Linked DNA regions of Homo sapiens. The protein of the gene in region 2 purifies or fractionates together with the protein of the main gene of each other region. This does not show direct contact. Each region holds a gene or a part of one and is shown on either strand. Other genes may lie near its edges. The genes, in order: SFXN5, MAS1, SPG7, ITPRIP, PDS5B, SLC35G2 and TUBGCP2.

Region 1 (3,500 bases), on a different chromosome or scaffold from region 2:
AGGCTCCTCAACCCCGCGTGTCCATCCAACTGACCCACTGCCCTCCCTCGAACCTGCCCCCGCCTGGCTCCATCTCATTAAGCACCTACATCTGCCTGGTTGTTCAAAACCAGAAAGCCAGTGCACATCCTCTGGCTCCCGTTCCCTCCCACCACATACAGCTCTTCATCGAATCCCGAAGAAGCCGCCTCCTGACTCCCTCTTTAGGGACCCACTTCTCTCCATGCCCACTGCCAACAGCCTGGTCCAAGCCGCCATCACCGCTTGCTGGATGCCCGCCACAGGCTCCTGATGGTTCCTTCTCTGGAGCTCTAACCCAGCCCCACGCGGCAGCACAGGGGCCGCTCAGAATCAGGCATCTGTGGTCTGCCCTGCACAGCCCTTAGGAGGACATTCACCCTCTCTGTTCTGGCTTCCAAGTTCCCAACACCACCCAGCCCAGCCCCTCATTCCCAGGCCACATCACCTTGCTGCACTCCCTGGTTGCGCTGCAGACTTTGGTCAGCTCTTGGACATGGCGTGTGCTGCCTCACCTCTCAGAACCTTCACACCAGGTGTCCGCGGACCTCACATCTCCCCCCGCCACCCCTTTTCATCTGGCCAACTCCAGCCACGCTCCCAGTCCCAGTGAAATGTCACTTCCCTCTAGGCTCAGTTTGGTCTGCTGTCTCCTTCCACACCCAGTGGAGCTTCTCCCACCCTAACGCTCCTGGCTCCTCATCTGCTGGCCTCTGTTTAATCACCCTGTTGACTGCGTGACCCTCACTCTGAGGGCCAGAGCCTGGGCCAGCCTCATTCACGGTTCCAGCCCCAGCGCCTAGCATGGCGCTAAGGAGTCGGCACGGTATGAGTATTTGTTCAGAAATCACCAAACAGCACCCCCTGCCCTGCCCTGCCCTTGAGCCCCTCCCCACTGACCTCTGACATTTGCGGGAAGAGGCTGATGGCCAGCGGCAGGGCCAGGCCGAAGGCTGCCAGGCACACGAGGCTTTGCACAGGGAGGAGCAGCCGGGGGCGTGCCTGCAGGAGAGCCGTCCTGTGAGGGAGAGAGGAGGGAGCCCCATGAGACCCGAAGGTGGGGTGGGCTGGCTGCCAGCCACCATGCTGGGTCCCACTCTGTCTCTGGGCCCAGGAAGCGTGGTTCCGGGGCAGTGCCAGTGTGCAGCTAAACAGATATAGCAGAGTTCTGTCTTTGGGACCTTTTCCCGATAGGTACCCCTATCCCAGCGGGTATAGACCCCTATCCCAATGTCTTGAAGGACGTTGCTGGCTGAAACCTCAATTACTCAGGTCACGAATGAGTACTTTCGGGGCACCCACCCGCCACGCGTCCAGCCCCGTGCCAAGAAGGCCCTATGTGGGAGAGACACTCAAAGAGGCTGTCGGCCCCTGTTCCTGGGGAGACACATAGGGACGTAAGATCGCTCTCGAGGGCAGCACGTAATTAAACAGCAAAGAAACCAGAGTAGGTGCCAAGTTCAGGGGAGATGACAAAGCACATACATATGGGCACACGCCAGCCAGGAGGGGGTGATCCTCCTCTATGTGTGAGAACAGAAGACACCCCACTGGCCACCTTGTCAATTTCAACCCAAGGGCAACAGAGGGTGCAATGACTCGTCCAAGGCCAAGTCTGCAGGAGGCTGTCAGAGCTGCTGCCTGGACCCCTGGCTCCCCGAGGGTGCTGTCACCCCAGCTGGTCCCCTGTGCCAGCTTCATCACCAACACAACACAGCTGGCACCCTCTTCCCATGGCTGGCTTCGGAGCTGGTTTCCTGGGCAGGGGAGGGGGCATGATAAACCTCCCTTTGGGGCCCAGGCTCCCCAGACAGCGTGGGGACATACCAGCTGGCCAATGTGCCTGCACTGTGTTCATCGGAGCTTCCTGTTTTGCTCAATACAGCAGGCCCTTCAGCGGGGACCACAGCATTCCACCTGGGGAGGCCTGGGATGACTAGACTATTTGCCAGGGGGTGTTGGGCAGGCACTAAATCTGACCTCAGTAACTGTTAGCCTCCAAGTGACAGGCTCCTGGTGTGAAGGGGAAATAATCCAGGCTCTTATCCGCCGCCCCCAGCAGGGCTGACCATGCCACAGGCAGGTAAGGGGCCCTCCTAGGGGCAGAGCCCCAATGTGGCGGGCAGTAAACCCCATATACTGTCACCTCTTGAGACAAGAATCCCAACAGCAACTGGCCCTGAGAAGACAGCAAAATTGGGAGTAGTTTTCAAAAGTTAAAGTGCATCAGCTGGACTGGGCAACTGGTTAAAAATGCAAATGCCCAAGGGTTGCTTACAACCATGAAAGCCTGATTCAGTGGGCACTGGACCTGGAAATGTGCATTTTAACCCTCCATGAGTCTAAAATGGTGATCCCAGACCACACTTCTGATAAACCCTGGCCCTGGATGTTCCTGCTCAGGTATTAATAAAGATCCCATTACTTGCAAATCCTATGCAAGTAAAAGGGTGAGCCCTGGCCTGGCACACAGTAAGTGCTCAGAAATTATGTGTCATTATTGCTGTTGTTATTGCTCATGTTACCTGCGGGAAGGTAGGATCCTGGTAGCCCACCTGTCTTCCAGTCCTTCCCACAGGCCCAGACCGCAAGGTTTGTCCAGCTGCTAAATCCGGCCTGAATTAAGCTATTGGAAAGGGGAGTTTCCACAGGATTGAGCAGTAGGACCAAGGTGCCTAAATCAAGCCCAAACCCCTCTGATCCTCCAATCCCCATCCAGCACCCCCACCCTCTCTCTCTACTCCATGCTAGCCCATGCCCGCCTGGACTTCCTTAGGGGTCGTGGAGGGGCTGGGAGTAAGGCTGAGAGGGCCCTGAGATGAACTTCTCAAGCAAGATGAGGAGCGGGGGATACAAGGCTCATTCTCCAAGCTTCATACAGAGTCTGGAGGCCCTGCTTGGAGGAGGCTGTGGAAGGACGGGGCTGCCCTCCTGTTCCAGTGGCAGTGACTAGAGGGTGTGGAGTCCCTGGAAGCACAGCCCCGAGGGTCCCTGCCCACAGCCCTGAGAGCAGTGAAGGGTGAGAAAAAGAAAGAGAGACGCTACCCCCGGCAAGTGAAGAGCAGGCCATGGGCTCAGTCCTTGGGACCTGCTGGTGGGGACACTAGACAGACCCCCTTTCTGTGGGGCTGTGACCAAGGCTCCTCTCTCAGGGTGGCTGGCTGAAGTACTCAGTGGGAAAGAGGTCCAAGAAGTCTGAGGCCTGGGCTCCCAGCTCAGGAAGGAGTCAGGCCTGAGGCTGAAACAGGAGCCTCGGAAGCCCCAGCCCAGAGCAGGCCTGAGAGCGAACACAGTAGGACAGGGGGAAGGGAGGGGGGAGGAAAATGGCAAGGAGGGAAGGGAAAGGCAGCTGGGGGAGTTAAAATATGTAGATGGAGAGATGTGCGAATGCCTGGGAGAAAGGAAAGACCTGGAGCCCAGGGAGTAAAGGAAGCTGGGGGAGCGGACTCAGGGCTGTGGCCTGGGCCCGGAGCCAACTCAGA
Region 2 (3,500 bases):
GGTTTAGGAGTCATGCAGCCAGAGGCCACAAGATTCTCTACCTCCCCATTACTCCTAGGGATAACATCACTGTTGTAAAATCTGTTATTTGTGCTCAAGACATTTTTCAGACCCTGCATTCTGATGCACCAGCTGGTGCCACTCAGACAGATAATCTGCCTCAACCGGTTCTGTGATCCCACCCAGAAACAGAAGACCGCAAAAACAAACTGCTTGAACTTCCTGTGACTTCATCCTCCAACCTGACCAATCAGCACTCCACATTCCCTGGTGCCCTACACACCAAATTATCCTTAAAAAAAACCCCAGTCTCCGGCCGGGGGTGGTGGCTCAGGCCTGTAATCCCAGCACTTTGGGAGGCCGAGGCGGGCGGATCACAAGGTCAGGAGATCGAGACCATCCTGGCTAACATGGTGAAACCCCGTCTCTACTAGAAATACAGAAAAATTAGCCGGGCGTGGTGGCGGACGCCTGTAGTCCCAGCTGCTTGGGAGGCTGAGGCAGGAGAATGGCGTGAACCCGAGAGGCGGAGCTTGCAGTGAGCCAAGAACGAGCCACTGCACTCCAGCCGGGGTGACAGATCAAGACTCCGTCTCAAAAACAAACAAACAAACAAACAAACAAACAAAAAAACCCAGTCTCTGGATTTTCAGGGAGACTGATTTGAGTGGTAAAACTCTGGTCTCTAGTTTAGCTGGCTCTGTATGAATTAAACTCTTTCTCTATTGCAATTCCCCCGTCTTGATAAATCGGCTCTGTCTGGGCAGCAGGCAAAGAGAACCCTTTAGGCAGTTACAGTCCCAGCAGGGCTCATTTTATAGCCTCTTTAATCTTAACACAAAATGGGGATATTTTCTTTTAAATGTTTATCGCCTTTCTTCTAATTTTAAAGCAGTATGTGCTCATTGAAGAAAATTCAGAAAATCCACACATACAACTACTATTAAAAATTAACCAGATTCAACATTTAGGATATTCCATTGGTCTTTGTTCAATGTCTTACACACGCTCGTTTTTAAAATTGAGATTGCATTTTATAATCTTTTGGTATCCTTTCTTTCTACCTTTTTTTACTCAGTATCATATTGTAAACATTTACTCATGTCAGTATATACTCTAAAAGTATGACTTCAGTATCACTAACTGAAGGTCTCATGATTTATTTGTTTATTTATTTATATATTTATAATTTTGAGACAGGGTCTCACCCTGTCAACCAGGCTGGAGTGCAGCAGTGAGATCACAGCTCACTGCAGCCTCTATCTCCTGGGCTTAAGTGAGCCTCCCAGGTAGCTGGGACTAGAGCACTTGCCACCATGCCAGCTGAGTTTTTGTATTTTTTGTAGAGACAGGGTTTTCCCATGTTGCCCAGGATGGTCTCAAACTCTTGGACTCAACTGATTCTCCTGTCTTGGCCTCCCGCAGTGCTGGGATTACAGGCGTGAGCCTCTGTGCCCAGCTTTCATTATTCATTTTTAATAATCCCCTAGCCTTGGACATATCCATTTGCTGCTGATTTTTCACCGCTATTTTTAAAAACAAAGCACCGTAATGAATTCATATGGATGCAAATTTTGTGCACATCTCTAATTATTCCCCTAGGACATATTTCTAAAAGTGGAATTGCTAGACCAAAGGGTATAAACGTTCTTCAAGATTTAAATGTGTATTAACAAACTGTCATCCAAAATAACCATGCCAATTATATTAATACCAACATCAACAGTATATAAAGTTTTTTTCACAGCATATATATGTTTCTTTTTCTACAACATCTTCAGTTTCTTAAATTCCCAAATTTGATAGATGATAAAAGATACCTTGTTTTAATTTGCATTTATTTGATTCCTAATGAGGTTGGACATTCTTTTATGTTAACGGTTACTTGTATTTTTTGATGGATTGTTTTTTCATACTCTATGTCCATTTCTTTTATTGAACTGCAAGAAACATTTGTAAATATGGCAATTTGTTATATGTTATACGTTACAACATATGTATATGTTATATTTTTCCCCAGCAACTGGAGTATTTTATAAAAGACATGAAAGGATGCGGCTTGGAGTTTTCTTAAAAACACTTTCTTATTGGTAAAGTCAGACCATCCTGTGCTGATCATTAAGACTTAGAGCTTGAAAAAATCATGCAGATACTGCAAACCACCCCCTTGTTTTTCCAGGTGAGGAAATTAACTCAGGACTAGTCCAAGGTTACATACTTAGTAACAAAGGCAGCAGCAGAGCCTGGATTGCCCCAGGTCCAAATTGGCACTATTTCTAGCCCTCCCCTGCCCCACCCAACATACACACACACCAGCTCATTGTCAACAGTCCGTCTATGTGTGAAGTTCACACACCCATTCATGGGGCTGTCAGGACTTTTGGAACATTTATTAACGGCTTTTATGTCGCCAGAAGCAACCGCACAATCAACTGGGTTGTTAGTAATTAAGATCCTTAAAAGATGGAGTTTTTAATTTATCAAAGGATGGATCTTATTTATCAAAGAATGGATTTTTATTTATTAAAGCACCACCTACCCAATACCAAACCCATAACCAAAACAACACAAACACACAGGAATGAGTTGTTTTCAGAAATATTGTCTCTGTTTTCACTTTCTTCTGTGAAACAGAGTGGCTCCTAGCTATCACTATTATCAATAAACACATCTATTGATGAAGGACACCATGCTTCACCATTATGGGTAAAGATAATTGATGTCAGAGGGGGCAATTCAGGCATGTCCTTTCATCAGAACAAATAAGAGAAAGGAGCCAGTGCATTCAACAGCGCAGCGCTCTCAGCCAAGTCCTCTAGAAGCAGGTGAGACAAGATCTGGGGCTCGAGCCCCTCCCCAATGCATGAATGTTGCTATGGAACCCCACTTCACGTCTCCTCGCCTCTTGTCTCCGAGATGATGCCAGAGCCTAGCATATTTCTTCCCTCTGGCTCTCCTCCTGCTTTCCTGCAGTTCTTCTTCTTTCTCCTTCGCTGGATCTCTTCTTACACTGCCCTTTGCACCTTGGAGTTCCACCAGGCTCCATTCTTTTTTTTTTTTTTTTTTTTTGAGACAGGGTCTCACTCTGTCGCCCAGGCTGGAGTGCAGTGGTGCCATCTCCACTCAATTCAGCCTCCGCCTCCCGGGTTCAAGTGATTCTCCTGCCTCAGCCTCCCAAGTAGCTGGGACTACAGGCACCCGCCACCACATCTGACTAATTTTTTGGTATTTTTAGTAGAAACGGAGTTTTGCCGTGTTGGCCAGTCTGCAGGCTCCGTTCTCGACCCTCTTCCCTTCCTACTCCACAGACTCTCCTTGGGTGGTCTTGTTCAATCCCACCATTTCAACCATCACCATTTTCTGATGAAATCCAAATGCACAGCTTTAGCTCACACATCTCCCCAGCATGTCAGACCCATATACCCAAATGTCCTGGGTATCTCCAACTGAGCCTCATCAGGTGGCAGAGCAGTCTCAGTGGGCCAAAACAGCAATCCAAC
Region 3 (2,432 bases), on a different chromosome or scaffold from region 2:
ACTGCCTACCCATCTGTTCACAACATGGGACAAAGAGCCGTGCACCTCTCCTGAGTTCTAAGCAGCAGTTACCAAACCCAGGGACAAAAACGTTCACTCCAGCTCTGCCCACTGTGAGAAACACATCAGACAATCGCAACTGAGGAACGTCCTACAAAACATGAGACCAATCCTCAAAACTGCCAGAGCCCTCAAAACAAGGGAGGTCTGAGGAACTGTCACCCCAGAGGAGCCTAAGAAGATGGGCGATCAAACGCCATGTGGACTCCCAAGACCGGAAAGGACACTGGGGAGACTCAGCACATCTGAATCACGTGTGGACCCAACACCGCGGGTCGGCGGGGGCTCCTCAGGTGGGAGGACTGCCCCATGGGGGCCTCCACGGGAGCGAGGCAGGGTGGCAGGGAGCTCTCTGCACCGCGCCTGCAACTTTTCTACATCTAACACTATAATCAGCGTGGGGCTGTGGCTCACGCCTGTAATCCCAACACTTGGGGAGGCCGAGGCAGGCGGATCACCTGAGGTCAGGAGTTCAAGACCAGCCTGGCCAATGTGGTAAAACCCCACCTCTACTAAAAATACAAAAATTAGCTGGGCATGGTGACGCGTGCCTGTAATCCCAGACACTTGGGAGGCTGAGACAGGAGAATGCTTGAACTGGGGAGGTGGAGGTGGCAGTAAGCTGAGATTGCACCACTGCACTCCAGCCTCGTGACAGAGAGAGACTCCATCTCAAAAAAAAAAAAAAAAGAAAAGCCGAGTGTGTTGGTGCATGCCTGCAGTCGCAGCTACTCGGGAGGCTGAGGCAGGAGAATCACTGGAACCCGGGAGGCAGAGGTTGCAGTGAGCCAAGATGTCGCCATCGCACTCCAGCCTGGGTGACAGAGCAAGACTTTGTCTCAAAAAAAAAAAGAAAAAAAAATTCCTACTCTAAAATTAAAGCTTTGTTTTAAAAAAATGTTCAAGAAAAAAGTGTAAGACTTGGGAAAAGATTAAACAAAACTGACAAAACATTGGTAATTGCTAATGGCAGGAAGAGGCACAGGAGACTGTGGCAGCCTTCTTTCTACCTCGGGGGAACACACTTGACGAGTTCAGGATAAAAAGTATGGAACACGTAAGTTTCAGTTGAGCTGGGTAGAATTCACATCGGTCAGAGTGTTCTCTGTACTCTGTGTGCCTTGGAAATACTTCACGAGAGGGGTGGGGACCGTGGGTGCTGTGTGGACACTGTGTGACGCCGTAGCCCCCACGCCTGGCCAGGGCCTCACCGCCTGCAACTTGTCCAGGTTGTCCTGCAGCACCTTCTCGGTGTGTCTGTAGGCCTTGGCCACCAGCAGTCTTGCTTCCTGTGAGTGGAGGGAACTGTGTCAGGGGCAAGGCTGGCCGCCTGGCTCCAGCACCAAAGCACAGAAAAGAAATGGCAGACTGGGAACACGGCCTTTCCCCTCCCAGGAGGAACAGGACTCCTCAGCCGACAGGTGGTCTCCTGCCCCTGTGACCAGTGCCAGGAAAGCAGGGCTCCGCATGCCAGCCCACCCACCCACACCCACCCACAGCTGCCTCACAGGCACACATCGGCCCTTCCTGGCCCAGTCTGAAGGACATGTGGGCCCTGGGTCTATTGCTCGGTGTATTTATTTGATATTCTTCCCAGATTCACATCTATAATTTCATTAGGAGCATCTATGTCCTCATTTGAGAAGAAAATACTCCACAGGTGGGAACTACAGCAGAGCCCAGAAGGAAGAAACCCAGGTGGGGCCTGCAGCTGAGCTCCGCTGGGGCGGCCGTGGGCGACCCTTGTGTGGTAGACCCAGGGACTCCCTCCCCGGGGAGCACAGAGGGCAGCGGTGTGGCCAGAGCCGACTCACATGGTCCATCATCTGCTGCAGGCCTTGGCTGAAGGGGCGCCGCCCGATGCCCATGAGGCCCTCCTGCGCCTCAGGGAAGGAGATGGGCCCGATGCCAGGTGCCATCCCAAACTGCTTCACCATGGAGTAGGCGATGCGGGTGACCTTCCTCAGGTCGTCCTGTGCCCCTGGAGGGCGGGGTCGAGACAGAGGCATCCTCAGCACTGCAGGCGCAGAGCAGTGCTGGGCCCCAGGTGTCCCGGTCAGAGCACTGAGGCAGCACCACCTCCATCCCCTTCCTCCCGAGGACCCACCGTGAAGCTGGACAGTGAGGACGTTGGCACCTCACCACTGTTCCTTAAGAGAGTCTTAAAACTTTCCGAAATGCTCTTTTATTTGGAAATCTAGAACCCGGGGGCATACTGGAGCTCACTGCATGGCAGTTCTCAAGCACAAGCCCAGGCCTATGCGAGGCAAACCCATGGACCTGGAGCCCAGGGGCCCCCGGGACCCTCCTTCAGCTCTCTGGATATCCCAGTGCAGTAATGGCTTCAGAACAATGAAGCCGCTTCAATTTTA
Region 4 (3,500 bases), on a different chromosome or scaffold from region 2:
GCTGGGGCATTCTTGAGCATCTCATAGAAGGAGTCCAGTGTCTTACGGTAAAGGCTTCGCTGCAGGACGAAGGGCCGGAAGAGGTTGAGGGGCTCGGCCCTGAGCACGGCCTCAGGGAGTCCCATGGCCTCAGGCACCTTGCGGTTGCCGATGAAGAAGTGGTGGAGCTTCTTCTGGAGCAAGCTCTTCTCCAGGAAGCACAGCAACTCGTGCAGACGAGCGTCCAGCTGCCCCGCCTTCCAGTCGGCGGCCTGCCGGAGGAGTAGGAGGTGCAGTAGGGCCGTCTTCAGGTGGTAGCTGCTGAGCCCGCTGGGACCGGTCAGGCGGCTCTGCTTGGAGAGCAGGAAGGATGCTATCTGCAGGCAGCTGAGGTGGCAGGCGCCCTCGGGCAGTGCCTTTAGTGTCGTCCTGAGGAAGTGTCGCTCATAGACAGCAAAGGACAGGAGCCAGTCTGTGCTGGAGGCTGGGGTGCCCTCAGAGGGCTCCCTGGGAAGGTGGGAGACAAAGTACAGGTCCGAGTCATCACACTGGATCACAGGAATCAGGTTGAAGGGCATGAACTTCCCTGAACGGAACTTGATCTTCAGGGACCCCGGGCTGTCCAGCTGGCCAAAGGCCAGGTCGAACTCGTACTTGTGGGCGATGCCCTTCCAGGCTCTGGTGAGGGCCGTCTGGAACCACTTCATGACCTGCATCGTGTCCAGGTACAGGGAATCTGTGGCACACAGCAGGTTCTCCATGTCGCCGCAGGGAGGCGCCATGCTGTTCCTGCCGTGCAGGAGACACAGCATGTCTTCCCCGAGCTTGGTCTTGCCGCAGATGCAGCTCAATGTGTCCCCATCGGCGCGGACCACCTTGATCTGGCCGTAGCCCTGGCGATCCAGGGGCACTGAGCGGCCGGAGCACCAGAGCTCTGGGTGGAAGCGGTAGGGCTCGGGGGGTGTGAAGGGCACGAAAAGGTGGCACAGCAGTGGCCTGTCCACCTGCCAGTTCTCGTACATGCTGTCCACGCCAATGAAGTCCTCCACCTCCATGTCGGTGTCCCGGTTGCAGAGGCTCCTCAGGGCTTCCAGCAAGTCATCCACGAAGCCTTCCAGGAACTCCCGGGTACGGGCTGCATCGGCCGTGGCCCCCCGGATGCAGCGCTCATAAAAGTGGCCAAGCGTGGCCTTGTTGGGCAGGGTGAGGCCCTGCAAGGGGGCGCCCCCCAGCCCAGGCAGCTCATCCTCCTCACCGCCCAGGCACTCAGGTGAGGGCCCCTCCTGGTGGTCCTGCCGCCACACCTCGATCATCAGGAAGAGGATCATGCAGAGGGTGCTCCAGAGGTCCCAGGCCACGCGTGTCTCGTTCTGCTGCCTGCCCTCCTCCGCCACCTGCTCCAGTGCCTCCTTTTCGGCCGCCAGCCGAGCCACCTCCTCCTCCAGGCGCAACTGCTCCAGCTGCAGCTTCTCCTGGTGCGCCTGCATCTTGCGGATGATCTCCTCCTCGTTCTCGGGGACTGTGGCGTTCTCCCGCGGGAACAGCAGCGGGTGGTTGATGATGGCCGTCACCACCACCAGACACACGCGGAAGAGCCCCATGGCCATGGTTGGAGCTTTCCTGGGAACAGAGAGACAGATGGTCACACCAAGCTTCCCTCAATGCCACTTCGTCCCTGGGCCCCGCACCAACCTCAGCCCCTCAGGGCTGGTTAAGGTCTTAGTTCTCCCACCCAACCCATCGAGAGCTCCCTGCGGCTGCCTCAGGAGCTTCAGTCCAGCCATGGAAGAGCCCCAAAGGCCTACCCTGGGGTGGACATCTGTTTTAGTCCTACCCAGACATTCCTGGATGGCAGCAGCACCCCACTGTCCCTAACCCTTTTCTCCTACCAGTCCTTATGGCCAGGGCGAGGATATACCCACCTCCAAGCTCCTGGGGTGGGCTCAAAACCCAGGCCCAAGACAATCAGACATTCTGCCGCCCAGCTACAGCTAGAGCGATTGGTTCTGGGATGAGCATTTGATCCAATTCGGGCCAATGAGAGACAGATGTAGGGTGTGTTGGGCCCAATAGGAAGAAAGACTCATCCTGTTGCTAGTTTGGTTGCTAGGTTGCTGAGGGAACAGGATTATACCTGCAGTGGGCTCTCGGGAAGGGAGCCCGCCTGAGAAAGACACCAACATAGAGGAAAGCAGAACCCCCCCTCCCCACACTCAGCTCTGCTTGAAGGCATTGCTGTCTGAGCTCTTTAGTCACACAAGTCAATAAAGAAACCCTTTTTAAGTCAGTTTGAGTGGCCTTTCCACCACTTGAAATCAAAATAGTCCTGAATAACATATCCCCTTCTCTCCCAAGTGAATGTCATCTTCCTGCAATACAGTGAAGCCTAGTGGTTAAGGGAGAAAGGGCTAGGTTCCAAACCAGCACTGTCAACTGAAAAGCTGTGTGACCCTGGGCATGTTAACACACCTCTCTGAGCCCTGGTTTCCTTACTGCACAAGGGGAAAGCAATAGTATCTCACAGGGTCATGGTATTGAGAGACGCAATGATCCCTGCAAACTGCATGGCCCAGTGACCAGTGCAAAGCACATATTCACTGAACAATAACTGTTTCGGAAGTAGATTTGAGCCCTTATCCTCCTCTTCTGTAAACGTCTCTTTCTGACCTGGAAGACCTTACCCCATATTCAGACACACTCTCCTGGCTTTTGTCTTTCCCCAGGACAATCTTGATGATGACCAGAGAGCAAAGAATCACTAATTTCTTCTTACCAGGCATGTGAACTTTAAATCTAACTTCTTAATTGTGAAAGGAGGCACTCTGTTCCCCTAGGATAAGTGGATTTTTAAGCCTCAAGTGACTTTTGGAGAAAGGCTAATCCCTACAATCTTTGCAATTCGAAGTATGATTCACGGACCAGCAGCTGCAGTATCTCCTGGGAGCTTGTTAGAAATGCAGAATCTCGGCCCCACCCACACTTACTGAATCGGAATCCACATTTTAATACCATCCATATAAAAATCTGAGAGGCACTGTCTTACGCTGCAAGACTTAGTTACACCCTCTCCTCTCCTCAGCAGGAATCCTGGGACTTAACAATCTGCTATTTCCACACTTGAACTACCCCCCTCCTTGCTTGGGACCTCGATGAAGGAAGCAAATGGCCAAATGCAAATCAGTTGAGGTCCTGAGATTGTTGAGAGCACAGGGCTCCTTCTACCACCCCCTAGTGCACACTAACACTGGCTGATAGGAGCTACTGTGCCAACCTGAGCCCCATTCCCTTTGGCTTGAGCCCGACCTGGAATTTGCACAATGAAATTCTTGTCCTAATGGTGCCAAGGAACAGGGATTTGTCCCCAGGTAAAGATACCTCTGCAGGTTGTCCCTGGCAAGTGGCAGGATGGAGATGGACTGAGTTGGCTGCTGGTCACGCCTAGACAAACTTGCTGCTCAGATGTGACTCAGACAGTTCCACCCCATACACAGCTGGACAGGTCTGCAGGAACCACAAGGGTT
Region 5 (3,500 bases), on a different chromosome or scaffold from region 2:
TCACCCACCTCTAACATAATGAAAGTACCACAAAAGCAGGGACTTACACTATCTTGATCACACTTTATCCTCTGCAAAACTGAGTAAAATTTTTGAGTGCCTGGCACATAGAAGGCACTCAATAAATGTTTGCTGAACGAATTAATAAAACTGCTACTGGCAACTTATTTATTTAGTGCTTATTTTTAAAGTTTATATTATACATTTATTTTGTTCAGTTACGCAATTATTCAACTTAAATAATACTTAGAATTCTCTGTCCGCCAACATTTTGCATGAGAAGTTTAAACAAAAGGTTTGGAAAAAGTTACTGAGACGTGTTTCCACTTCATGAAACAAAGGCTCCAAAATTAAAAATCATCAAATGTGCCTTTCTCCATTTAGTATTTAAATATATATGTTGATTTACATACACAAAATAATACAACTGTATTAGCTTTTATGTTTATTCAACTTCACAGAAATCCAAAAATGTGTCTGAAAATTGGTTATCTATTTAAATAGCAATTGTTCATTATGGTGACATAATACTATGTGATGGCAGAGATATGCCTAATTTAAACAAATTCTTAAATTCCTGACATTCTTACAAGTGGACAAAAGGAAATCTTAAAAATCAGACTTACAAGTTATAAGAAGATATAGAAAGCAATTTAACCTTTAATACCTGGAATAAGTTTTACAGCCACATTTGTAATTTACATATACAGTGAAGATCACTGAAAAAGCCTCCTGTTGCACTGCAGCAAGAAATTTTATTATAATGTAGATTAAACAAATTTGCTACAGAGTGCAGCAAGATAACCTCACTGAGGAATAAGATTTTCATAATGGAACTTGTTACAGGGAGTTAAATATTTTCTTAATGTTATACAGTACATATTTTCAAAATGAACATTATCACTGAAATAGTTTGCTAACAATTGTTAGCAATTAATGTTTTATACACACTTAATTTTACTGTAAAGTATGTGGCTCTCCAAATCTTACTACATGAAATGTTAAGCTTAAACGTAAGATAATCCCCTAAGATGGAGACTCAAGACATCAAAACTTTGATCATTATTGCACCTATTTTTCTACACAAAAAAAAAAAAAAAGAAAGAAAGAAAAGAAAAATTTACATCGTAATCCACCCAAAAAAAGAACAGACAGGTCGTAAAATTACAGACTCATTGGCATTGAACATAACAAAATCTACAATGAACATTTTTTTGTGAACTGCTGTACAGCATTACAAAAATGTGAAATGAAATTTGCTTAACTATAATCATGCAAATAAAAATCCTTCACAATCACTTTTTCGTATGTTTTATAAAATGTTCTTAATATTTCCATAAACATTTCTGGTGCAATTTAATCAATGACAAAAATACAAAGCTATTCCTTATTCTTTATGTTATAGATTTTAAAACATGCCTTTGTACTGCTGAAACAGAAATTATGTGTTTGGGAGAACCGAGCTAAGGAAACATTTCAAAACCAATGTATGTTGATCCCACCTGAGCTGCTTTGATATATGACAGCCTCTCATAATTACTGGTGTCACTATTGTTGTAAATGAAGAATAGTTGAATATGGAGAGATTAAGACACAATTCAAAACACTTTTTAAAAAATAAATGGCTGTTTCATAAACACAAACAAATCTTTAAAAGAAAAATAATCACATCAATTGCAATATACATTGGCAAATAGTAAAATGTCATTTTCCAAAATAGTAGCTTCTTTATTATATGCCCCATCTATTATAACCAATCTTGGAAATATATCTTAAACATAATGGTGTATCATATGAAAATGTTCCACTATTCAATGTGATAAATTTAATAAGTTAGAATATGATTTTTTCCCCTCTGGTGTTAACCATGAAAAAACATAACAGCACCTAAAATACTAAAATGAAATTAGGTAAGCATTAAGTAGTAACCTATATGTTTTGGTTCAAAATACAGTTTATACAACTGTATAAAGGATACTGCCTTAAGTAATTTATTTCTACATTTTGCAGATTACAATGAAGAAAAAAAAAGACCTGCTCTAAATCCAAATAAATTTCCACTTCTCCCAATCTGGACAAAGTGGAATTTCATTCAAAGTTCACAAGACTGTGACAACTACAGTAGCTGATATACTTGGATATACCACTTCTACGCTGCCCCCACCCCCCAGAATCAATTTTTTGGCTCCAAAATAAAGTACAATAATAAACTCTTGATGAAAAACTATGTTATGGGGCAATCTATCATATACTATGGCTAAATATGAATTTACAGAAAACAGCACATCCCATTTTCAGCACTTTTTTTCAAAAACATGCAACTCACTATAAAATACAAAACACTTGGCTTTCAAGAACAGCTTTATAAAGACACACTGCATCAATAAAATTTTTTCTTTCTGATTAACTTTACACTGTTACGGAGAACTGGAATATTTCTAATGTGTATATATCAGGTTTTATATTATAGTGTAATTTGCATTTTCTGAACATAACGTTCAAGAGGAAATATCTATACACAATAACATTCTAGACTATTAAAAACTCATTCAAATTACAGAATTTTATTGATACAGTAGATTAATAAAAACTGAAAGGATGATAAAATGGGATAAAGAATTCAGTACATTATTTTATAACACACTCTTTAAAATTAAAATACTTTAAATCTTTCTTCTTAAAATTTTCATTGCCATGAAAGGCCAGAAAATTCTGGGACAAATCAATACTGAGGTGTAAAGTAATCCAAGAACTTCAGGACTATTTCACAATTTGCATGGTTGTCCTCCTATCAGAGGCATCCTTCTGGTGTAATGGCAGACAATTTAGCACCTCTGAAGATTAAGGGTGCCCAGGAGTAAACACTAGGTAAGATACACAAAGGGAAGAGACCATTTAACTCTCCAACAAATAGTGACATCAAGAAAATGACACCAATTGTTGAAAACAAATTTTTTTTCACAGTAAAATTGCAGAGAATACAAATACAAACACTGACAGATTACTGCTTAAGATCTATCCTAACAAATTCTTTTCAAATCAATAGATCCAATAAACAGTCGGGTACTGTCAGTTTAAAGCCGCAGATAAAAGCTATACAAGCACTTCAGAAATCAGAAACATTAAAAAAAAGAAAAAAGATATTTACAAGTTTCTTCTTTATGTCTACATAGCCATCGCACATTACACTTTCACAAGACTCCATAGTCAATGTTACCATGTGTATGGCTAAAGCATGTGACCACAAATGTATGGGGTCACCAAAGTAAGGTCCAACTGTCCACTCTTCAGCAGTCCCATTTTGTGCATCAAAGGCTTTATTCAGCCTCAAGCTTGACCAAAAAAAAAAAAAAAGATTTTTCCAAAGCTTTCACAGAGAAAGTTATTAATTACATTTGTTCATCGCCGTTCCCTTTTAGCACTTCGCCGCCGTACCTTAAAAGGAAAGTCACCAGATGCTTAATTAAAATGGGTATATGTGCATAAGATATGCAGTAATC
Region 6 (4,024 bases), on a different chromosome or scaffold from region 2:
AGAATCGAGGAGTAGAATGGTGGTTTCCAGGGACTGGAGGGCAGGGGAAAATCAGGAGTTATTAATCAACAGGCATAAAGTCTCAGTCAAGCAAGATGCATAAGCTCTAAAGATCTGCTATACAGCATTGCACCTATCAACAATACATATCAACAATAATGTATTATACACGTAAAATTTTGTTAAGAAGGCAGGCCCGGGTGCAGTGGCATACGCCTGTAATCCTGGCACTTTGGGAAGCCAAGGCAGGCAGATAACCTGAGGACAGGAGTTCAAGACCAGCCTGGCCAACATGGTAAAACCCTGTCTCTACTAAAAATATAAAAACTAGCTGGGTGCGGTGGCCAGCTACTCAAGAGGCTGAGGCAGGAGAATCCCTTGAACCCGGGAGGCAGAGGTTGCAGTGAGCGGAGAGCACGTCACTGCACTCCAGTCTGGGCAACAAGCAAGACAATGTCTCAAAAAAAAATTTTTTTTTTGTTCAGAGGATAGATCTCATGTTACATATTCTTTCCACAATAATTTTTTTAAGTCTAAAAAATTGGACATAAATGTTCATTATGGGATTGTTTAAAAAACTTACATTCTATCCACACAGATCAATATTATGCAACCCTTAATAATGATGACCTAGTTTTATGATGAAAGACATTAATTATAAATTATATAGCAAAAACGCAACCAATAGAGGATTGGTCCATTTAAAATGTATGCATGTTCATCTAAATGAAAATCTGTTTACAATGGTTTTCTATGTTTATGCATTTCTCTATTACCTAAAATTCTTATAATGAGCATATATTTTTTAAGGAAAAAACAATACCAATGTTTTTGAAAAATACAAATGTAAACTTTAAGAACTTCACACAAACCACATACCACCAATATATTTAAAATTGTCTGCATTATGATACATTTTAGTCATATGTTAAGATTATAAATTTCTATGATTATTTATATGTTGTTCTTATTAAAATTTACATTAATTCATTTTCCTTAAGCTTTCTTTAAGGAATTTTTTTGGTATCAATATCAATTTTACATCTTCCTAGACTTTTGTTCTGGAATGTAAATGAGTATAAATACTTAATTGCTCAGCCAAATACCAAACACTTCAATCCACAGGCTCTGTGCCTTTGGAACAGATGATTATGAAAATAAATGGCTCTGCAGAGTTCACATTTACTAGAAGTGTCAAAAAATAAAGATGGATTACAAAAGCTCTAAAAAATGTGTGGCTTGTAGTGTGTAATGGTTTTCAAAAGGGATGAGTGTATTTGCATGTGTGTTAGGTTTGTGCGTAAATGCACATACCTGTATCTTTCATAAGTATATGTGAGAATTCCTGTTTACGCTCATGGTGTGTACTTTCTCATAGGTAATAAAATCTGTTATGCATATGCTTATCTGTACCTCCAAGGCAAGCCACATTTGCTTTCGGGTTATGTTCAGGAAACCAGCCTCAACTTGTCTGAAAAGAGTTTCAGTGTTGGGCCTGCTCCACTCTGGCCACCAGCCATGGAGATGGGCTATTTTTGGCAAAGGTGCAGAGTAGAAGGGCAACGCAGGCCGCGGCCCAGGAAGTCAGTCGACGAGGGCGCGCGAGGCACTTCAGCACCACGGACATAGGCAAGCCTGAGCCAAGTCCTTTCCCGCGGAGGAAGATCGCTCCTCCGGAGCTACCCCCAGCCCTCTGGACCTACCCCCAGCCCTCTGGACCCACCCCCAGCACTCTGGACGTGGGGGGTTACTATCTCCAGGTCCTCGATCAACACTCGGACCCGAGCTTTCCGCCTCGCTCCTCGCGGAGCCGGGTGAAAGAAAACCTGGCCCGAGATGCAGGTCCGCGCTGAGCCTTCATCCGCCGCAACACGAGTCTCTTTCCTGCCGGCCCGCGCGACCCTTCTTCCCTCTCCTCCTCTCAAATGAGGCCAAATGGGTGCACGTGGCGTAGAAATTCTACAGCGCCCAGAGCACTGTGAGGAAAGATTCGCCTTTTCCTCCCCGTGGCTGCTGGAGGCTGTGCGGACTTGCCCTGAGCCTTCTCCGCCACTCTCGGCCGTGACGAGGCCCTTCCTCCACTAACCCTTGCCCTCGTCTTCCCTTGGGAAAAGATGTCTACAAACCGTCGATGTACCACGAAAATCTCAGCGCCCACAGACTGGCGTTCAAGAGTCATGGACATGAGACAAGAGAGTAATGGAAAATACAAATTCTTGGCCATATTTCTAAAATCATCCAGCCTTTTTTAAAACTTGTATTTGAAATTGATCCCATATGACGCCACAGTGACTCACCCCTTGCTTGGGTTGGCTACTGGGCGAGAGGAAAGCAACAGCCCCTGGCCTTCATCATGGACGCTGCAGGAGGGCCCAGACACGCGACAGCGGAAAGAAACGGGAAACCGGGCCGTAGCCGATGCTGGCCCTCCCGTCCCCGTGTCCCGGTTCTCCAGGAGGGCAGCACAGAGAAATGCGGGCCCCGCGGCCTTTCAGGCGTCGTGCAGAGCACCCCGAAGTCTGCAAAGCGGGCGGGGCGCGTCGCCCCCAGCCCGGCCCTTACCCAAAAAGACTGTTGTGCCCCTTAGGTGTGGCGGCTAAACGCGGGTGTGTGGAGTTCGGGGTCCGCTCTCATTCCCTTGTCGGGCGGCCGGGCAGGCAGGATCAAGGTCCCAGTCCGCCGCCGCCGACCGGCTCCCGGGGCCCGGTTACCTGCGTGTCGTGGCGAGGAAGGTGCCCCGGAGGCGACTGACGCGGGCGTGCCCTCGCCTGGGAAAATCGAGGCGGGCGCTGCCCGGAGTACTGCGGAGGGAGAGGGGCGCCGCCGCGCGGACTCTGCGCCTGCGCTCTCCGCCCTCCGCCGCCCCCACCCCACAACCTGACTGGCGCCGGAGTTGGAGACTGCGGGGGACGCTCAGGGTTGTGCCTGAACTGAAGGACTTCCTCTACCCGCGAGGTGGGAGGGTCCACGGGAAAGCGCCCGCCCGGGCCCCTCTAGCTTACGCCCTTGGAGGGCGCTTGTTTGAAGCAATTGCCTGTCTGCCAGGGCTACGTAGTCCGCTGCAAGTGGGCACGGAGGCAGTTTCTGTCCATTTCCACCCATTGTTTGCGCTTAAAAGTCGCAAGTCTATTCCTTCATGTTTAAATATGTGTCCAGCATCGGAAAATCGTGGTCCGGAAAAGTCTTCGGGCATCCCCGAGTCCACCCGCCATTTTACTGATAAGGTCTCTGAGGGAAGGGTCTTGACACTGCACAGCTGGTTCTTCTACCCAAGTGCATATGCCCCAGTCCCAAGTGGAATGAATATAGCCTCTTGGAAACAGACTGGTCATTAAAAGCAGTGGATTTGATGGGTCCAGGGGACAGGCAAGAAAGGGTAAGGGCTGAACCAAGGTGCTGGCTGTGGGAAAAAACAGGAGGTGCTTGCTGGTTTTTCCTCTGTCCCTTCAGACCCACTCTCCACTCTGCTCTGTGACTCAGGACTGACCTTTATGGGCTACGTCAACTATAATCTGGCTTTCAATTGGTTTTGGCAAGTGGGAGGCACCTGCAGATCAGAAGGCAGGATGTGATTCAGGACCTCCCCTGCATCCCCAGCGGGCCACCCTGTTAGCAGTGGCTATGTTCTTCATCTGAAAGCCATTACTCCCATCCTGTGGCCCTCTCCTGCAGTTTTCTCCAGGTTCTGGTTACCACTAACTACCCTTGCCCCTTCAGGCCTGGAGTGGGTAATGACGCCCAGAGGTTTCCTTTAACCCCATCCACACCTTTTTAAATAGTCCCTTCATTAAACTCTCCTCAACTATCCCATCTTTTCCCCACCTTTCCAGGACGCTATAATAGATTTTAGTCCATTGCGGTTGGCAAAATTCATGAGGACAAAAATATATGTAAAAGAAATACGGGGCTTTTAAAAGGCGAGAAGTCTTCCAGAGCCATCTTGACAGTTCCCTGGGCTCCAGGCAGCCAGCATGCTAGGTGGTCTCCCCACTGGGCCCCATAGCCCGAGGGTGCTAGTTTAGGT
Region 7 (3,500 bases), on a different chromosome or scaffold from region 2:
CAAGCTCAGGTGATTCTCCCACCTCAGCCTCCCGAGTAGCTGGGACTGCAGGTGTGCACCATCACACGCAGCTAATTTCTGTATTTTCAGTAGAGACGGGGATTCGCCGTGTTGCCCAGGCTGGTCTTGAACTCCTGGAGTCAAGCGATCTGTCCACCTTGGCCTCCTAAAGTGATGGGATTACAGGTGTGAGCCACCATACCCGGCCTAAAGCAACCCTTGAGGTCCCTCCACAGCCAGGCGGCTGGATCCACACTAACCCCCACCCCACGGCACCTCCACCCCACCGTGAGGCTTCTCCCCACAAGGGCATTGGCCGAGGCTTCGTGGCTGTGGATGAATGAGGCCAACATGGTGGAAAGTAAGTGATGCAGAGTCAGAGGCAGTTCCTGGAAGATGCACTCGCTGTTCCCAAAACGCCAAGCCACACCCACTCCTTTAGGGATGGTAGACATTGGGGTCTCGGTTTTATTGGTCATCCTGAGAAGGCCACTGGAGTAATAGAAAGAAATGGAATTTGAAGTTGAAAAGTGTAGATCTGCCAGCCTGGGCAACACGGCAAGACCCCACCTTTACAAAAAATTTAAAAATTAGCCAGGAATGGTGGCACGTGCCAGTGGTCCCAGCTCCGAGGGAGACTAAGGATACAGGATCGCTTGAGCCTGGGTGCTCAAGGCTGCAGTGAGCTGAGATTGCACCACTGCCCTCCAGACTGGGTGACAGAGTGAGATTTGTCTCAAAAATAAAAAAAGGAAAAAAAAAAAACAAGGACAGTGTGGATCTGCATCAGGATTGAGGCTTTCGCTGAAGGGCTTGCGTTGGTGACGGATTGTAGTCTTGAGGCCTGCAGTCACAGGACACTTCCCAGCAGATGTGTGAGGCTGACAGAGTGATTTTGTAAACCGAAAGCCTGTTGTACGGAGCCTTCCTGAGCTGCCAGGGCCTGGTTTGGGTATGGTCTGGCTGGCACGGGGCCCTGTCAGGCCCTCGTGGGGACAGTTTCAACATCCTGCTTTCGTCTGGTGCTCCTCCCGGCCCCCCAGGCATGGCCCGCCTGAGGCTGTGGACTGAGAACTTGGTCCTGGGACCTGAGGGGTTTGGTGGGTGGCGGCCCGTGGCCGTCCTCGTGAGGAAGCTTAGCTGTGTGTCCTGCAGCCGTCTCATCCTCTCTGGATAGAAATTATCAAGAGTTTCTTAACGTTTAAGTGATAGCTTTTTAAAGACAAGGTTTTTTGTCCCAGAGTAACTCAGACTTACCAAGTTGTACTTACCAATGTTGAAAGTGCAGCTTCTGCTGGAGTCGCCTTTTCAACTCCTAACTTCACCTTTTCAAATGTCAGCCATGTATCTGAGCATTGCGGAGCCGAGTGTGGTGAGATCTTGACACCAGCCACCACGCCTCCCAGGCCGGCCCCGTCCTGCGGCGGTTGGAACTCAGCCTGTGGCTCCCCAGTGGGGTCAGTCAAAGCCAAGTGCAGTGGCTGACCTTTTATACCCATAAACAAAGATGAGCAAGAGTGAGACTGACCCGCAGATGAGGGCACGTGGCTGTGGGGGCATGGGAGTGGGGGCTGCAGAGCCACAGCGCTGTCTGTGCCCGCAGGCACGTTGCCCCTGGCCTCGCAGGAGTCGGCCGTGGTGGAGGACCTGCTGTACGTGCTGGTGGGCGTGGACGGGAGGTACGTCAGTGCTCAGCCCCTGGCTGGGAGGCAGAGCCGGACCTTCCTCGTGGACCCCAACCTGGACCTGTCCATCAGGGAGCTGGTGCACAGGATCCTCCCAGTGGCCGCCAGCTACTCCGCTGTGACCAGGTGGGCACCGGGCGCGGTCCCTGGGAGCCTGCGCTGTTGTGGGGGAGGGGTTAGGTCCCATCCTGATGACCATGGGGACGTCTGCATCGCTTCTAAAGAGAGCGCCCGCCTTGGTGACAACTCCGTGCCCAACTCAGTTTTGGAGGGTCTGTGAGTCACCATCCAGGGTCCTGACTCATCTCCTCCTGGGGCAAAAGTTCCCCTCTGGGATGTGGGGTTCAAGTGAGTCATTTGCTTCCTGTTTGGGATGAGACTCAGAATATCGGACATTGTATGTGCCTGCAGCTTGCCTTTTTGAGGAAGTCTGACAGCTTTTCTTCCAGGTTCATTGAAGAGAAGTCTTCCTTCGAGTACGGGCAGGTGAACCACGCCCTGGCGGCCGCCATGCGCACCCTGGTGAAGGAGCACCTGATTCTGGTGTCACAGCTGGAGCAGCTGCACAGGCAGGGCCTCCTTTCGCTGCAGAAGCTCTGGTTCTACATCCAGCCAGCCATGCGCACCATGGACATCCTGGCCTCCCTCGGTGCGTGCCCGCCCGGGGGGCATGGGGCAGTGGTGGGTGGCAGGTGTTGAACATGGCACCCAGTGTGAGGAGAGACTCTGCAGGGGCCGTGGAGCAGCTGCCCAGGGCAGGGGCGTGTGGCCAAAGCTCATGTTGCTCCATGTGCTATTAACTTGCAAGAGGAAAGCCCTGGAAGCTCTTACTGGTCAGCTGAAATCAGCAACTACAACCTTACAGTTAATACGTATCCCAAAGAAGCAGCACCGTCCCAGGAAGAAGGTTGGAGAAGCATGAGGGGCCCCAGCAGTGTTGTTGGCAGAGGCTGGGCGTGCGCTTCCTTCTCAGCAGTGAGCCCTCCTTTCTCCCCACAGCCACCTCGGTGGACAAAGGCGAATGTCTTGGGGGGTCCACGCTGAGCCTGCTCCACGACAGGAGCTTCAGCTACACAGGGGACAGCCAGGCGCAGGAGCTATGCCTGTACCTAACCAAGGCGGCCAGTGCTCCCTACTTCGAGGTTCTGGAGAAGTGGATCTACAGGGGCATCATCCACGACCCATACAGGTAGGGCTCCCCGGGACACGGGGACACGGAGGGACACGGGGACACGGAGGGACATGGGGGACACGGAGTGTGCATGCTGCCCTCTCCCGTACAGGTAGGGCTCCCCGGGACACGGGGACACGGGGGACACGGAGGGACACGGGGGACACGGAGTGTGCATGCTGCCCTCTCCCGTACAGGTAGGGCTCCCCGGGACACGGGGACATGGGGGACACGGAGGGACACGGGGGACACGGAGTGTGCATGCTGCCCTCTCCCGTACAGGTAGGGCTCCCCGGGACACGGGGACATGGGGGACACGGAGGGACACGGGGGACACGGAGTGTGCATGCTGCCCTCTCCCGTACAGGTAGGGCTCCCCGGGACACGGGGACATGGGGGACATGGGGGACACGGAGGGACACGGAGGGACACGGAGGGACACGGGGGACACGGAGGGACATGGGGGACACGGAGGGACACGGAGGGACACAGAGGGACATGGGGGACACGGAGGGTGCGTGCTGCCCTCTCCCGTACAGGTAGGGCTCCCCGGGACACGGGGACACGGAGGGACACGGAGGGACATGGGGGACACGGAGGGACATGGGGGACACGGACGGTGCATGCTGCCCTCTCCCGTACAG

What was found.
Region 1: the proteins of MAS1 (region 2) and SFXN5 purify together in Homo sapiens (affinity purification with mass spectrometry; 2 studies listed by BioGRID and IntAct, with this or other methods). This does not show direct contact.
Region 3: the proteins of MAS1 (region 2) and SPG7 purify together in Homo sapiens (affinity purification with mass spectrometry; 2 studies listed by BioGRID and IntAct, with this or other methods). This does not show direct contact.
Region 4: the proteins of MAS1 (region 2) and ITPRIP purify together in Homo sapiens (affinity purification with mass spectrometry; 2 studies listed by BioGRID and IntAct, with this or other methods). This does not show direct contact.
Region 5: the proteins of MAS1 (region 2) and PDS5B purify together in Homo sapiens (affinity purification with mass spectrometry; 2 studies listed by BioGRID and IntAct, with this or other methods). This does not show direct contact.
Region 6: the proteins of MAS1 (region 2) and SLC35G2 purify together in Homo sapiens (affinity purification with mass spectrometry; 2 studies listed by BioGRID and IntAct, with this or other methods). This does not show direct contact.
Region 7: the proteins of MAS1 (region 2) and TUBGCP2 purify together in Homo sapiens (affinity purification with mass spectrometry; 2 studies listed by BioGRID and IntAct, with this or other methods). This does not show direct contact.

Annotation. Positions count from the first base shown.
Region 1 is NC_000002.12:72,960,213-72,963,712, forward strand, and holds part of SFXN5 (sideroflexin-5), read right to left. Parts: intron 1,037-3,500; coding exon 919-1,036; intron 1-918. UniProt on the Homo sapiens protein: Mitochondrial amino-acid transporter. Transports citrate. Does not act as a serine transporter: not able to mediate transport of serine into mitochondria.
Region 2 is NC_000006.12:159,893,988-159,897,487, reverse strand, and holds part of MAS1 (proto-oncogene Mas), read right to left. Parts: intron 1-3,500. UniProt on the Homo sapiens protein: Receptor for angiotensin 1-7. Acts specifically as a functional antagonist of AGTR1 (angiotensin-2 type 1 receptor), although it up-regulates AGTR1 receptor levels.
Region 3 is NC_000016.10:89,553,403-89,555,834, reverse strand, and holds part of SPG7 (mitochondrial inner membrane m-AAA protease component paraplegin isoform 1 precursor), read right to left. Parts: intron 2,042-2,432; coding exon 1,875-2,041; intron 1,350-1,874; coding exon 1,272-1,349; intron 1-1,271. UniProt on the Homo sapiens protein: Catalytic component of the m-AAA protease, a protease that plays a key role in proteostasis of inner mitochondrial membrane proteins, and which is essential for axonal and neuron development.
Region 4 is NC_000010.11:104,314,466-104,317,965, forward strand, and holds part of ITPRIP (inositol 1,4,5-trisphosphate receptor-interacting protein precursor), read right to left. Parts: intron 1,600-3,500; coding exon of another isoform or gene 1,587-1,599; coding exon 1-1,586. UniProt on the Homo sapiens protein: Enhances Ca(2+)-mediated inhibition of inositol 1,4,5-triphosphate receptor (ITPR) Ca(2+) release.
Region 5 is NC_000013.11:32,774,952-32,778,451, reverse strand, and holds the end of PDS5B (sister chromatid cohesion protein PDS5 homolog B), read right to left. Parts: intron 3,436-3,500; coding exon 3,400-3,435; 3' UTR 433-3,399; downstream 1-432. UniProt on the Homo sapiens protein: Regulator of sister chromatid cohesion in mitosis which may stabilize cohesin complex association with chromatin. May couple sister chromatid cohesion during mitosis to DNA replication.
Region 6 is NC_000003.12:136,817,902-136,821,925, reverse strand, and holds the start of SLC35G2 (solute carrier family 35 member G2), read right to left. Parts: upstream 2,801-4,024; 5' UTR 2,298-2,800; exon of another isoform or gene 1,414-2,297; intron 1-1,413.
Region 7 is NC_000010.11:133,291,873-133,295,372, reverse strand, and holds part of TUBGCP2 (gamma-tubulin complex component 2), read left to right. Parts: intron 1-1,603; coding exon 1,604-1,811; intron 1,812-2,134; coding exon 2,135-2,334; intron 2,335-2,684; coding exon 2,685-2,874; intron 2,875-3,325; exon of another isoform or gene 3,326-3,500. UniProt on the Homo sapiens protein: Component of the gamma-tubulin ring complex (gTuRC) which mediates microtubule nucleation.